2 separate regions of the Homo sapiens genome follow, and region 2 is linked to region 1. The links come from fine-mapping of genetic effects on gene expression. A gene starts in region 1. The other region holds a variant in brackets. All regions are shown on one strand. Distances are between the middles of the regions.

Evidence for each region.
Region 2: its variant is fine-mapped to the expression of ACACB in whole blood (TOPMed, PIP 0.99).

The regions. Positions count from the first base shown.
Region 1 is chr12:109,115,099-109,118,012 of GRCh38, forward strand. It overlaps ACACB (acetyl-CoA carboxylase beta), which reads left to right and starts at 1,489. Exons shown (of 53, transcript NM_001093.4): 1 at 1,489-1,606.
Region 2 is chr12:109,158,070-109,160,983 of GRCh38, forward strand. The region is part of intron 2 of ACACB (acetyl-CoA carboxylase beta); the gene reads left to right. Among named protein-coding and RNA genes, the nearest start is that of ACACB, 43 kb to the left of the region's middle. The variant A/G (reference allele first, on the strand shown) is at 1,283.

The DNA of each region.
Region 1 (2,914 bases):
CTTTTTGCAAGTAATGAATTTCATTAGAAAGATATTAAGTGCTTGTCATGAGCAAGCCCCTGTGCCAGAAACTCAATATAAATCATTTCATTTTCTCACCCATATGGTGAAGTAGTTGATGAGGACACTGAAGCTCAGCCATTTGCTCAAAGTCATGGCTAATGGAGGGAGGATTCAAACCCACATCAGCTTGATTTCAAAGCCTAATAGTCCTGCCACTGTCAACACCCTGCCTAGATCATGATTATTTGGAATCACTGGGAAAGAATTTTTTTTTCATGAAGTTAGAAGCCTAAGAATTTTTTTCAATGGAATTTTATAAAAATGTCCTTGAATCACAGATGGCTCTCCCTGGAAACATAGGTTTGTTTGAGAGTCACCTCTTTTATTGTCTTAATAAATAGACTAAGAGCCATCACAAGGGCTACTGTGGCTAGAGAACATATGACTCGGGCCGGGCATTGTGCAGGCATTTGACCTGCATTCCTTCACCCCGGTTCCTGTAACATGTACCTGGTGCTGTGGGGTTACAGCTGATAATGCTGAGGTTTCCAGAGCACATGCTTCCAAGTCCAGTGGAGAAAATCCCAAGAAGTCCAATATTCAATGACTGTTCCTTATTGCAAAATAAGCCCAGAAACAAAGTAGCTGTGAACAGGCTGCACCAGCCCCAGCAGCAATTTCCATTTAAACCATTTTGCACAGATCCCGTGCTCAGCGCTCTCGCCAGTTTCTCCACTTGCTGTTTAGTAAGGCCATCATTGTTGGCAGGAAGTGGGTTCCACCTTCCCTGTTGCCTGAGCACAATGTGCTCCTATGTGGTCTCCACTTTCCTGCTGCCTAGTTGGCTGGGCTTCTCCAGCTGGGCCTTGGAGGCGACCTTTGTCCCACATGCCAGCCCTCCCCACGTTGCAGAACACTATGTAACTGCAGCGTGTGCTGAATTTCCTCTTCTGTGCTCAACCCTAGCAAGAGCCAGTCAACCCTGAATGAGAATGTGGCAATGGAGCTGTTTTTTTCTTTTATCCCCAAGTCACAAGAAATTGGAAACATTCCATTAAGTGGCGTGATTTGAGAGGGTTTCGCCAAATCTTTTCAGGGGAGAGAAGCCAGGTGACCTGATAGCGATCACCTTCCCATTCACGGTTTTCAATGGGGGCTTGTTTCTCAAATGACCAACACCTGTAGGCAGTTAATTTTCAGCATGTCACAGGAGGGCCCAGATGACTTTCTGCCTACTGCTTACGACAACATGGACTTTAGATGCCTCATGGCTTCAACAGCTAAGAATTATGAAATAAAGCGAGTTATGGGATTAAAAGGCAGATAGCAGAACTCTCCCAGGAGTAGCCAGGGCTGCACAAGTGGTTTGACGTGGGATCTTTCTCATCTTTGCCCCGGGTTGTTGCTGCTTTGAAGGTTAAGTGCTCCAGGGATATTTTTAAACAGCAGGGGCTGATTAATCTAAAAGTGACATTTGCAGTCCCCAGAGTAAGCAGCTAGCAGGCTTAGATTCAGGCCCTCAGCAAACAAGGAACCTGGAAAATGTAACCCTGAATGCACGGTGGGGAGGACATGGCAAGAGAAAAGCGGCAGGAATAAAGTGGTAAGTCAGCTCGCCCCTCCCCGGGGTCCGGACCATTCTGCCAACGTCCAGGTAAATTCGAACCCAATGTATAGTGAGAGCAGACCCTGTCTGAAGGCATGCACTTGGGGTCCCCGGGGAAAAACGACTCCCGTCATGTTTGAAGGAAGCTAATCAGAAGAGCTCGAAATGTAACGCAGATGAAAGAGAAGGGCCTTTCTTTGCTTCTATAAATGGTGGTGTGGATCCCTGGACATGCTCCCATATAAGTTCCACAACGTTTTATAAACAATTCTGTTTTTTGCCTCCAAAGCTACTGTCTTAAGGAATAGTATTCTGTTTCTGTTTCCTCAAATGGTTGTTCTTTTTTTTTTTTTTTTTTTTTTTAAAGCAGACTAAGGCTGGGCACGGTGGCTCATGCCACCCAGCACCTTGGGAGGCAGAGGCAGGTGGATCACTTGAGGTCAGGAGTTCGAGACCAGCCTGGCCAACATGGCGAAACCCCATCTGTACTAAACACATAAAAATTAGCCAGATGTGGTGATGGGCACCTGTAATCCCAGCTACTTGGGAGGCTGAGGCAGGAGAATCGCTTGAACCCAGGAGGTGGGGGTTGCAGTGAGCTAAAATTGCGCCACTGCATTCCAGCCTGACTGACAGAGCAAGACTCTGTCTCAAAAAAAAAAAAAAAGAAAAGAAAAAGAAAAAAAGGAGACTAAGAGTAAAGCGTTTGTAGTGGTCCTATATCCTATATTTCTAGGAAGACATGACTTTCTTTCAATGTTGAAAAAATGCATTCCAAAATAATATGCAAGTTAAAAAGTCACTCAGCACCGTGCAAAAGTCTCCTTGCTGTTATTCCTGTCTAACCCTCCTCCTCCAGGTAGCCACTGTGCACATTTTGGTATAAACCCCCCAGACCTTTTATTCTGTACACTCACACTGTACACAACTCTCTCCCTCATGTCTATTGTGATTACTTTTATTTTTTAATATCAATGGGCATCCATATAGGTTGGGTGACCAACCATCCCACTTTGCCCAGGACCGGGGAATTCCCGGGACATGGGACTTGCAATTTAAAAACTGAAAGGTGAAGATATTATTATTATCATTATTATTTGAGATGGAGTGCTCACTGCAAGCTCCGCCTCCTGGGTTCACGCCATTCTCCTGCCTCAGCCTCCCAAGTAGCTGGGACTACAGGCACCCACTACCACGCCCGGCTAATTTTTTTTGTATTTTTAGTAGAGACAGGGTTTCACTGTGTTAGCCAGGATGGTCTCGATCTCCTGACCTCAAGTGATCCGCCCGCCTCGGCCTCCCAGA
Region 2 (2,914 bases), 43 kb after region 1:
GACATGCTGATGGGACCCCGACATCAGAATCTTATAAAGTTTTTCATGTCAGGGTTGAAAACTCGTGCCTAGCTTGGGGTCAGCAGACTGCTATTATAAACGGCCAGACAGTAAATATTTTTGGCTTTGTGGCCATGTGGTCTCTGTTGTAACTACTCAACTCTGCTGTTTCCTGCACCAGAAGCCATAGTTATGTAATTGAACAGGCCTGGCTGTGTTTCAATCAGACATTATTTATAGATGGGGAAATTCAAAGTTCATATAATTTTTATGTGTCACAAAACAGGATTCTTTTGATTTTTTTTTTTTTTTCGATGACTTAAAAATGTTGGCTGGGCATGGTGGCTTATGTCTATAGTCCCAGCACTTTAGAAGACCAAGACAGGAGGGTTGCTTGAGGAGTTTGAGACCAGTCTGGGCAACATGATGAAACCCCGTCTCTACAAAAATAAACCAATTAGTTGGGCATGGTGGTGCACACCTGCAGTCCCAGCTACTCAGGAGGCTGAGGTGGGAGGATCACTTGAGCCCAGGAGTTTGAGGCTGCAGTGAACTATTTTTGCACCACTGCACTGTAGTCCTGGCAACAGAGGGAGACCCTGTCTCTATAAAAAACAAATAAGGCTGGGTGCGGTGGCTCACACTTGTGGTCCCAGCACTTTGGGAGGCCAAGGTGGGCAGATCGCCCTGAGGTCAGGAGTTCAAGACCAGCCTGGCCAACATGGTAAAACCCTGTCTCTAATAAAAATACAAAAATTAGCAGAGCGTGGTAGCACACATCTGTAGTCCCAGCTACTCGGGAGGCTGAGGCAGGAGAATCACTTGAACCTGAGAGGTGGAGGTAGCAGTGAGCTGAGATCACACCGCTGCACTCCAGCCTGGGCGACAGAGCAAGACTCCCTTTCGAAACAAACGAAACAAAACAAAAAACAATCTAAAAAGTTAAAACCGCTCTTAGCCTGTGGGAGATACAAAAACAGGTGGCCGAGTGGATTTGACCCATGGGTCCTAGTTTGCCCACTCACCCCTGGCCTAGCCAAGGTAGTCATCCCAGGGGGTACTGATGGGGCAGGTGGCTTGAGAAATTTCCAAGGGTCCATTTCTGGAGAGCGTGGTTTTGTGCTGTTTGAACGATATCAACCTTTACTGGGCTACACAGTGTTCTTTCTTGCTTTCTTGTTTGGAAGTAGTTGTAATTACAGAATTGCCTGGCTCAGAATCAGCTCTTAGCAGTGCGGGTAGCCGTTACCATCTCTATTTTATAGAAGAAAAGAGAGGGAAG[A/G]AATTGAAGGTCTGATTAATGCCGGGGCCCTAGCCTAATGGCCCAGCCTGGGCTCCTGTAATGCTATCCTGCAGACGTACATGGTAGCTAAAGTGTTGCAAGCTGTTTACTTTGGCTAGGTCCAGGGATAAACTGTTAATTCCATCATGTGAGGAAACTGAGGCAGGGAGTATTGAAGTAACTTTCCCAGGATTACACAGGTTATAAGCGGTAGATTCTGGCTTCAAAGCCTAGGAGGATGGCCGCAGTCTACCAGAGTTTCTAAACTGCGGCTCTGTTGACACTTGGGGCTGTCCAGTTCTTTGTGGGGCTGTCCTGTGCATTGCAGGGTGTTGAGCAGCATCCCTGGTCTCCACCCACTAGATGCCAGTAGCGCATCCCCCAAGTTGTGACAATCAAAGATGTCTCCAGGTATTGCTCCCCGGGGAGCAAAATTTCCCCCAGTTAAGCACTCAGGGCTGGGCGCGGTGGCTCACCCCTGTAATCCCAGCACTTTGGGAGGCCAAGGTGGGCAGATCACCTGAGGTCAGGAGTTCGAGACCAGCCTGGCCAACATAGTGAAACCCCATTTCTACTAAAAATACAAAAATTAGCCAGGCATGGTGGCAGGCACCTATAGTCCCAGCTACTCGGGAGGCTGAGACAGGAGAATCGCTTGAATCTGGGAGGCAGAGGTTGCAGTGAGCCGAGATGGTGCCACTTCACTCCAGCCTGGGTGACAGAGCTAGACTCTGTCTCAAAAAAAAAAAAAAAACCAACCAACCAAACAAAAAACCTCAGCATTATACATGTTTGTCTCTTATTTGAGAGGAATATAAGAGGCCATATGTGTAATGCATGTTTTAAAAGTCCAGTTAATAGAGGGGCTTCCATTTATCTCAGATTGTCTTTCTGCCTAGAAGTTAGATTCTGAGGTCAGCTAGAGTTGGATTTGAAACGGGGCTCTGCCACTTGCCAGCTGTGAAACTGGAGGTAAATGGTCCTCTCTGAACCTCGGTTTCCTCATCGTGAACCTGGAGATGACAGACTCCTCCATACAGGGCTGTGGAGATTCACTGAGAGGCCCCCTGTGCCCAGTCCATAGTGGGCAGCCGAGAATGTTTATTTCCTCCATTCCTGATACTATTCTGCCTGGTCTTGTGCTCCGGCAGCTGACTGCATTTGGTGTTTGGCTGACACCTCTGCTGTTGATTGTACCTGAAGTCATTTCCAAAGTCACCTTGAAACATTTCAGCTCTCACCCTTGCCGTGCTGTATAAGGACAGGGCTTCTCACTGGACAATGGCACTTAGGATGATCCTCCTTCAGTGGAAGCAAATGCTGGCCGAAGGTCAGCTCTCTAGAGCCAATGTTGGTTGGCTTCCAGCTTTATCAAAAAGAATTAAAATAGCCACTTGCCTGGAGATTGGGCCTGAAACAAGGCCAGTCCGGCAGCTTTGTGTGTTCGCTTGCCTAGCCTGCGGTAATGGGCTTGTGGCCTGCCTGATGGAGGGGCTCTGTCACCAGTTTCGAAATCAACATGGTGGCCAAGAATGGTTTTTTTGCCCCCTAGGCCACAAATGAAGTTTTTCTTTGTTGTGCTTTAGGTCAAATTGCTAGAGTTTTAATGTTTGTGTGTGTAGAAATGGGATG